2 separate regions of the Homo sapiens genome follow, and region 2 is linked to region 1. Evidence: fine-mapped expression QTL. A gene starts in region 1. The other region holds a variant in brackets. All regions are shown on one strand. Distances are from middle to middle. Region 1 holds the start of ACOX1 (acyl-CoA oxidase 1). Region 2 overlaps ACOX1 (acyl-CoA oxidase 1).

Region 1 (4,385 bases):
AAATACTGGAGTTCCTTTAAAATGGAGAAACCTAAAAGAGAAAATGCCCAGGAATAAATGAGAAAAAAATGCTATAGGCCAAAATAATCTTGTACTAGGATCATGTAATAGTGTTTGTTTAGGTTAAGGCAAAAAAGTCTTTTTTTTTTTTTTTTTTTTTTTTGAGACAGAGTCTCTCTTTGTTGCCCAGTCTGGAGTGCAGTGGCGTGATCTCGGCTCAGTGCAGCCTTTGCCTCCCAGGTTCAAGGGATTCTCCTGCCTCAGCCTCCTGAATAGCTGGGACCCCAGAAGCGCACCACCAGGCCCGGCTAATTTTTGTATTTTTAGTAGAGAGAGTTTCACCATTTTGGCCAGGCTGGTCTCGAGCTCCTGGCCTCAAGTGATCCACCTGCCTTGGCTTCCCAAAGTGCTGAGATTACAGGCATGAGCCACTGTGCCCGGCCCGAAGTCCTTATTTTTATTTATTTTTACCGTTCCTTGTGGAGCAGGGTGGATCACGAGGTGAGGAGTTTGAGACCAGCCTGGCAACATGGCGAAACCCCATCTCTACTAAAAATACAAAAATTAGCCGGGTGTGGTGGCGGGCGCCTGTAATCCCAGCTACTCAGGAGGCTGAAGCAGGAGAATCGCTTGAATCCGGGAGGTGGAGGCTGGAGTGAGCCGAGATCGTGCCACTGCACTGCAGCCTGGGCGACAGAGCGAGACTCCGTCTCAAAAAACAAAAACAAAAACAAAAAACACAACAAAACACATGGTCTGAAAAAAGGATATACTCTCTTCCACACTAGAACCAAGGCAGGTTTTTATGACGTCTCTCTCATATGCACAAGACAACCATTCAAGCACTGTCATGGATTCAGAACTACTGGGTTCTTAGACTTTCTATTCATTCAGAGGCGTCACAGATCATTCTTCATCCAGGTCCACACTACCATATAATATAATCTGCTATTGCTCCAAAATATTTAAATGGTCGTGCAACTAAAAAAAAAAATGCTCCCAGATTCAGAATTTTAGCAGTCCTCCTTACAAAGAGCAAAATGATTCTGCATTTAAATCAGTCAAATTTGAGTTGCTTGGGCAGAACAATGCTTTTACAACATCCTTGAAACTGTACTCTTGAGAACAAAAACTCCTGCATTTCCATTTATTATCAGCATTCTACAAACACGTCATCCCACGAAAAGGCTTGGATACAAAAGTGATCACATTATTTTTCACACATATAACTTTATTTATTTATTTATTTATTTATTTTTTGAGATGGAGTCTCGCACTCTTGCCCAGGCTGGAGTGCAGTGGCGCGATCTCGGCTCACTGCAAGCTCCGCCTCCCTAGTTCACGCTATTCTCCTGCCTCAGCCTCCCGAGTAGCTGGAACTACAGGCGCCCGCCACCACGCCCGGCTAATTTTTGTATTTTCAGTAGAGATGGGGTTTCACCGTGTTAGCCAGAATGGTCTCGATCTCCTGACTTGGTGATCCGCCCGCCTCGGCCTCCCAAAGTGCTGGGATTACAGGCGTGAGCCACCGCGCCCGGCCACACATATAACTTTATAAAGTTGCATGAAAATATGCCAGTTTGCATCTTCAAACACCAAGCACGGTGATGAAAGGCCACCATAGACCGCAGCTGTAAAGTTTAGGCTTAACAACACTTGCTCTGTTCTAAGGCATACCTACTTTTTAAACCACATAATTTCATCAGGGTCAGCGATGCCAAACTCCCTCATCTTCTTCACCATGATGGCACTTTTCCTGACAGCCACCTCATAACGCTGGCTGCGAGTGAGGAAGTTCAAGTCCTCATGCTGGAAGTCTGGGTCGTTCAGGATCATGTTCTCTGAAAGGGGGTTAAAGGGCATTAAAAGGCAGACAGACACTCGGGCCTCCGTTCCACCCTCCCTGAATCACAATAGGCTTCAGAGTCGCGGACACACCTGGGGAATGGCGATATCCCCCCACCAGGGACACAGGCTGTTCCTCGAAGTGGGGGTCCCGGCTCCCCTAACGCTGGGCCAGAGGGCCTAGGCCCCACAGCGCCCCTGACTCCGCATCGAGGGAGTCTCCAGCTTTTCTCGGGAAAGGAGGGAGGTCTCGCCCGCCGCCCTCACCGATCTCTCGGCGGCGCCGGGTTTTCTCGGGGCTGCCGTCCAGGATGTGTGTAAGCAGCTCCGGGTTGAAGCTGGCGGAATCCCGCTCCCTGCGCAGGTCCGGGTTCATGGCGACGACCAGCTGGCAGCGAAGTAAGCACCGACCGAGGTGGCAGTGACAATCTAAATCCGCAGCTCCAGCGCCGGCCGGACCCTAGGAGGCAGCCTCAGGACGGCGCAAGTCCCCGCCTCCGCTCGCCCGGCCCGCCCCGGCCCGCCCCTTCTTTCTCCGTGGCCCTTTGGCGCGTGAGTGACAGCGGCCCAGACAGAGGGGGCGATGTCCGCGTCGTGGCTGGGGCCGGTCGCGGGGCAGACTAATCCCCTGCTCCTGGCCAGGGGAGGCTCCCGAGCGGATCCTCGGGAAAGGGGCTCCGAAGGTCAAGAAACTGCCCTGCTGGGCGTCCGGGGAGTGGGAAAATAAAGCACTTTTTGTATCCCGCCCCTCCCCCGTCACGTGACCACGCGAGGCGGAAAGAAGAAATCCGAGGACCGGCGACGCCTAGAACAGGTTGGCTGGGGCCTTGGGAAGGGGGCGGGACAACGAGGCTGAGGAGGGATTGCGCCTGCACTTGCCCCCCTCTTACCCCGCGGCCTCTGTCACGCTTCCGGGTCCGTGCCCCTAGGCCTCTCCGAAATGAGAGTGGTCGGGAGACTCTGGAGTCTGGGGCGGGAGATGGGGCTTTGCGGAATTGCTAGGGAGGGTCACTTGGGCTTTTGCCAAATCCACCCGGATTGGAGAAGAATGGGACGGGAACCAGTCTCTTTGGGGAGAGGCTCCAGTTACCTTTTGTTAAGATAATGGCGTCTTTACTGGCAGAGGCGTGGGTTCCGGGGCCCTGGGTGTGGGATTGTGAGCGCTGTTCAAGGGGTGGACGGGGACTTAGAATGAGACCAAGCGGGCGGTGCTGCTCTAAGCCTTCTGTCTGGGAAACCAGACATTTTCCCCCGCAACCTGGCAGTTACTAGAGGTCTTGGAATCCAGACTTCTTTGCTTTCGCCATCACCGTCATCAAAGTGGGAAATGCACACTTACTGTTAAAACCTAGTGTAGGGCCGGGCGCGGTGGCTCACGCCTGGAATCCCAGCACTTTGGGAGGACGAGGCGGGCGTATCACTTGAGCCCAGGAGTTCAAGACCAGCCTGGGCAACATGGCAAAACCCCATCCCTACAAAAAATACCAAAAAATTAGCTGGGTGTAGTGGCATGCGCCTGTAGTCCCAGCTACTCTGAAGGCTGAGATGGGATGGTGGCTTGAGCCCCGGAGGTGGAGGTTGCGGTGAGCCAAGATTGTGACATTGCACTCCATCCTGGGCAACATAGTGAGACCCTGTCTCTACAGAAAAAAAACAAAAAACAAAAACAGTTCTGCCCAGTGGGATTGTAGACAAGGGAGATTCAGGGATTTGTTGAATCATCTCTAGTCATTTTTTTTTTTTTTCTTGAGACGGAGTCTCGCTCTGTCGCCCAGGCTGCAGTGTGGTGGTATGATCTCAGCTCATTGCAACCTCCACCCCCTGGGTTCAAGCGATTCTCCTATCTCAGCCTCCCGAGTAGCTGGGATTATAGGGGCTCGCCACCACACCCAGCTAATTGTATTTTTAGTAGAGACAGGATTTTGCCATGTTGGCCAGGCTGGTCTCGAATTCCTGACCTGTTGATCCACCTGCCTCGGCCTCCCAAAGCGCCGGGATTACAGGCGTGAGCCGCTGCGCCTAGCCTGTCTGTAGTCTGTGTAATACTATGACTTTGGTTTTCTCAGAAGTAAAACTACGAGAGATGCATAACATTCATAATTTGAATAATAGAACTATAATACACACTCTTAACCCCTAGGACCTCAGGATCCTCATTTGTCTTATTAAGCTGCTGATCTCAGGCCCCTTCAACAGCAGAGAGGGTGTCTAGTTTATTCTCTGTACCTGGCACAGTGCCTGCCCCGCTAAAGGTGCTCAGGAAATCTTTGTGGAGTGAACAAATGGCTGCTTGACAGCTGACCTTCTAGTTCTAATATTCTAGGAAACCAATTGCTCTTAATGTAACAATGATAAGGGGTGTACTTAGCATTGAATAGAAAAGACTTAGATGAAGAGCTAAATTTGCTGAGTTTTTATTTTGAAATAATTTCAAATTTACACGAGAATTACAAGAATAGAACAAAGAACTTTTCTTCTGTGACTTTAACGCTTTTTTTTTTTCTTTTGAGATGATGTCTTCCTCTGTCACCCAGGCTGGA
Region 2 (4,379 bases), 30 kb before region 1:
ATTGCACTTAAAACATCTGCTTTTTTTCATTTAATCTCTGAAATCTGTTCATTTTTTCCCTCCATTTATAAAAAGGGGTCAATTTATCATTTGCTCTATAGCTATTTGAATTCGAAAAAGATTCCACAAAATTTGAGTTGCACACAGGCGCTTTCTGAAGCAGATTAAACTTGTCCTTGTGACACTTCAGAGCTTGGACTGCAGTGACTTCAGGTGCTTGTAAGATTCGTGGACCTGTGGGGAAAGGAGAGAGAAGAACTACTAATAAAGAGTTTGCCATGTTAAATAGTATACTGTTTTTTGTTTTTGTTTTTGTTTTTTTTTTGAGACTGAGTCCTGCTCTGTTGCTCAGGCTGGAGTGCAGTGGCACAATCTTGGCTCACTACAGCCTCTGCCTCCCAGACTCCAGCGATCTTCCCACCTTAGCCTCCCGAGTTGCTAGAACTACAGGTGTGTGCCATGACACCTGGCTGCTATTTGTATTTTTTTGTAGAGATGGGGGTTTACCATGTTGGCCAGGCTGGTCTAGAACTCCTCAATTCAAGTGATCCACCCACCTCAGCCTCCCAAAGTGCTAGGATTACAGGCGTGAGCCACTGTGCCCAGCCTGTGGTTGTTTCTGAAGAGTCCTTATCTTTTAGAGCTATGCATTGAATTATTTATGGATAAAATTATCTGATGTCTTAGTTTTTTTTTTTTTTTTGAAACGGAGCCTCGCTCTTGTTGCCCAGGCTGGAGTGCAATGGCATGGTCTCGGCTCACCGCAACCTCCGCCTCCCAGGCTCAAGCAATTCTCCTGTCTCAGCCTCCCAAGTAGCTGGGATTACAGGCATGCGCCACCACGCCTGGCTAATTTTGTATTTTTAGTAGAAACAAGGTTTCTCCATGTTGGTCAGGCTGGTCTCAAACTCCCGACCTCAGGTGATCCACCTGCCTCGGCCTCCCAGGTGTGCATCACTGAGCCTGGCCCTGATGTCTTAGATTTATTTCAAAATAGTCCCCAGGAGGAGGGGGATGAAGGTTCAGATGAAACACAACTAGCCACGAGTTGATAGTCATTGCTGCTAGACAAAGGGTGTACCAAAGAGCACTACGGAATTCTCTTTTTGTATATTTTATTCTATTTGTGTGTGTGTGTGTGTGTGTATACTTTTTTTTTTTTTTTGAGACAGAGTTTTGCTCTTGTCACCCAGGCTGGAGTGCAATGGCACGAACGTGGCTCACTGCAACCTCCGCCTCCTGGGTTCTCCTGGGTTCAAGCTGAGGCAGGAGAATTCCCGAGTAGCTGGGACTACAGCCGTGCACCATTACTGCCTGGCTGCTTTTTTTGTATTTTTAGTAGAGATTGGGTTTCGCCATTTTAGCCAGGCTAGTCTCGAACTCCTGACCTCAGGTGATCTGCCCACTCGGCCTCCCACAGTGCTGGGATTACAGGTGTGAGCCAACGCACCCGGCCTGTATATATTTTTAAATGTTCAATTCGTTATCAAAAATTGAAATTGATTAAGACCCTGGTTACTGTGGGAACAACCCAGTTCCCTTCTGAACCTGTTGCTCAAATAAAGTGACTGTCAGAAGTGGCCATGGTACTTTCAGAGCTTTCACAGATAAATCCCCTTCGAGAGGCCTTTCCTGCTTCAATATTTAAGTGAAGACTTTTAAAAAGGTGCAGAGACACTGGATTTTTACCTCTGCTTTGTTCAGTGGGGAGTTCTTAGCCCACTCAAACAAGTTTTCATACACATTCCCATCATAGCGGCCAAGCACAGAGCCAAGTGTCACATCCTGAAAATCAAATGCATCAACCAAAGCAACAGCATCTGAGCGAATCAGAGTGAGTAACTCCTTTACACGCTGGTTTACTTGTGTAATCTGAGGCTCTGTCATGATGCTCCCCTAAAAGAGACCAAAATAAGTAAATAAAACATATATATGTATATAGATAGACATAAT[T/G]ATATGCATATACAGCTATAAAGCGGATGACAATTATTTTTTTCTTTTTTTTTTTTTGAGACTGAGTTTCACTCTTGTTGCCCAGGCTGGAGTACAATGGTGTGATCTTGGCTCACCGCAATCTCCGCCTCCCAGGTTCAAGCAATTCTCCTCCCTTGGCCTCCCAAATAGCTGGAATTACAGGCATGCGCCAGCACACCTGGCTAATTTTGTATTTTTAGTAGAGATGGGGTTTCTCCATGTTGGTCAGGCTGGTCTCGAACTCCCGACCTCAGGTGATCTGCCCGCCTTGGCCAAAGTGTTGGGATTACAGGCATGAGCCACTGTGCCTGGCTATTTTTCTTTTTCTTTTTTTTTTTTTTTGAGACAGAGTATTGCTCTGTCACCCAGGCTGGAATGCAGTGGTTTCATCTTGGCTCACTGCAACCTCTGCCTCCAGGGTTCAAATGATTCTCGTGCCTCAGCCTCCCTAGTAGCTGGGATTACAGGCATGTGCCACTGCACCTGGCTAATTTTTGTATTTTTAGTAGAGACAGGGTTTCACCAGGCCAGGCTGGTCTTGAACTCCTGACCTCAAGTGATCACCGTACCCGCCTTGGGCTCCCAAAGTGCTGGGATTACAGGCATGAGCCACCGTGCCCAGCCAACAATTATTTTTCTTAAAACAACAACAAAAAAGACTTATACTTAGAAAATACTGACCTGAAGGAAATCCCCCGCGTTCTGACTGATTCCATACAGAGAATACAGCAGACATAAACTCCTTAAGACAGCTTGAATGGCTTTATCTTGAATTTTGAGGAGTTTTTCTGAAAAGAGCTTAACTACCACATAGTGGCAATGTGCCTAAGATTAAAAAGAAAACACCAGAGTTTGAGAACCTTGGAAAAAGATTCAATATACAGTGACTAGGGTTTCTGTACCAGAAAATGCGGGATGCTGAGGGCAGGGAAGGGGAAAAAGAGAGAACTACCACTGACCTCACTTGCTCGAACAAGGTCAACAGAAGTTAGGTTCCAAGCTACCTCCTTGCTTTTTCTGTGAATCACTTCTTTTTGAAGGTTTTTTGCAGCAATTTCTACTAATCTGTTAAGACATAGATTGGAGGTCTGAGGAAATGATCAACAGTACTCATGCCTTCTTGCCATCTGTCAGGGCCCCAGCCCCACTGCTGCGTATTCTAGCTCTTGAGGGAGAGCTCACCTGGCTGCACGGAGTTTATATGCTTCGGTTAGGCTTTCGGGGCTGTTGATATCCACCATGGTTGGCCAGACTGCTACCTGCTGTGGCTGGATGCGCTGACTGGGCAGGTCGTTCAAATAGGACACCATGCCACACACCAACTTTCCTGAGTGCACCTGATCATAACTTTTCATCAGGAACCTAAAAGTCACCAGTAAACATGCTTTTAGTAACTCTACTTTCTTTTGTTTCTTTTGAGATGGAGTTTCATTCTTGTTGCCTAGGCTGGATGGAGTGCAATGGCCAGATCTCAGCTCACTGCAACCTCCTCCTCTTGGGTTCAAATGAATGATTCTCCTGCCTCAGCCTCCCAAGTAGCTGGGACTACAGGCACCTGCCACCATTCCTGGCTAATTTTTAATATTTTGTTTTTTTAGTAGAGACAGGGTTTTACCATGTTGGCCAGGCTGGTCTCTTAACTCCTGACCTCAAGTGATCTACCCGGCTTGGCGTCCCAAAGTGCTGGGATTACAGGAGTAAGCCACCACACCTGGCCTTTTTTTTTTTGATGGAGTTTTCGCTCTTGTTGCCCAGGATGGAGTGCAATAGCGCAATCTTGGCTCACTGCAACCTCCGCTTCCCAGGTTCAAGCGATTCTTCTGCCTCAGCCTCCCAAGTAGGCCGGGATTACAGGCAATGTGCCATCATGCCCGGCTAATTTTTTTGTATTTTTTTAGTAGAGACACGGTTTCACCATGTTGATCAAGCTGGTCTTGAACTCCTTACCTCATGATCTGCCCACCTCAGCTTCCCAAAGTGCTGGGATTACAGTCATGAGCCACTGTGCCCAGCCCAGTAACTCTATCCTTGATACAACTGCAAGCTATGTAACAGGTGCTTCATACTCTCTAGCCTCACCACGAAATAAAAACCGTGAGTCAGGATGGAAGGCAAAAGTATACCTTTCAGGAACAAATATATATATACGGTGAAGAAAAACCATGGGAACAAGAACCTAGGAAAAGGACTAGAACATTCTTATGAACAGATGGGAGGAATCGAGGATTTGACTCTCACCTAGCCGTCTGGAGCATCATGACAGTGTTTTCTCCCTCAAAGGTACAGCTTGGGGTGAAATTGACATAAATATTTGGAAGACCACTGCAATGAGAATAGCCATGCCCACCACAAGCCATCCGACATGCTTCAATGCCAGTGTTTGCAGTCCAGGAGGTGAAAGCCTT

Evidence for each region. PIP is the estimated chance that this variant, and not a neighbour inherited with it, causes the effect. A credible set is the group of variants that fine-mapping cannot tell apart.
Region 2: its variant is the best candidate, but not a certain one, in a credible set for the expression of ACOX1 in whole blood (TOPMed, PIP 0.74).

What each region holds. Positions count from the first base shown.
Region 1 is chr17:75,976,853-75,981,237 of GRCh38, forward strand. ACOX1 (acyl-CoA oxidase 1) reads right to left here and starts at 2,314. Exons shown (of 14, transcript NM_004035.7): 1 at 2,113-2,314; 2 at 1,682-1,841. The coding sequence starts at 2,221. TEN1 (TEN1 subunit of CST complex) reads left to right here and starts at 2,388. Exons shown (of 4, transcript NM_001113324.3): 1 at 2,388-2,659. TEN1-CDK3 (TEN1-CDK3 readthrough (NMD candidate)) reads left to right here and starts at 2,365. Exons shown (of 10, transcript NR_037709.1): 1 at 2,365-2,659. RefSeq lists enhancers at 1,488-2,071, 1,977-2,206, 2,072-2,655, 2,777-2,876 and a silencer at 2,287-2,356.
Region 2 is chr17:75,946,562-75,950,940 of GRCh38, forward strand. It overlaps ACOX1 (acyl-CoA oxidase 1), which reads right to left. Exons shown (of 14, transcript NM_004035.7): 9 at 4,213-4,379; 10 at 3,157-3,336; 11 at 2,934-3,039; 12 at 2,656-2,799; 13 at 1,690-1,896; 14 at 1-234. The coding sequence ends at 187. Among named protein-coding and RNA genes, the nearest start is that of FBF1, 7.7 kb to the left of the region's middle. The variant T/G (reference allele first, on the strand shown) is at 1,954.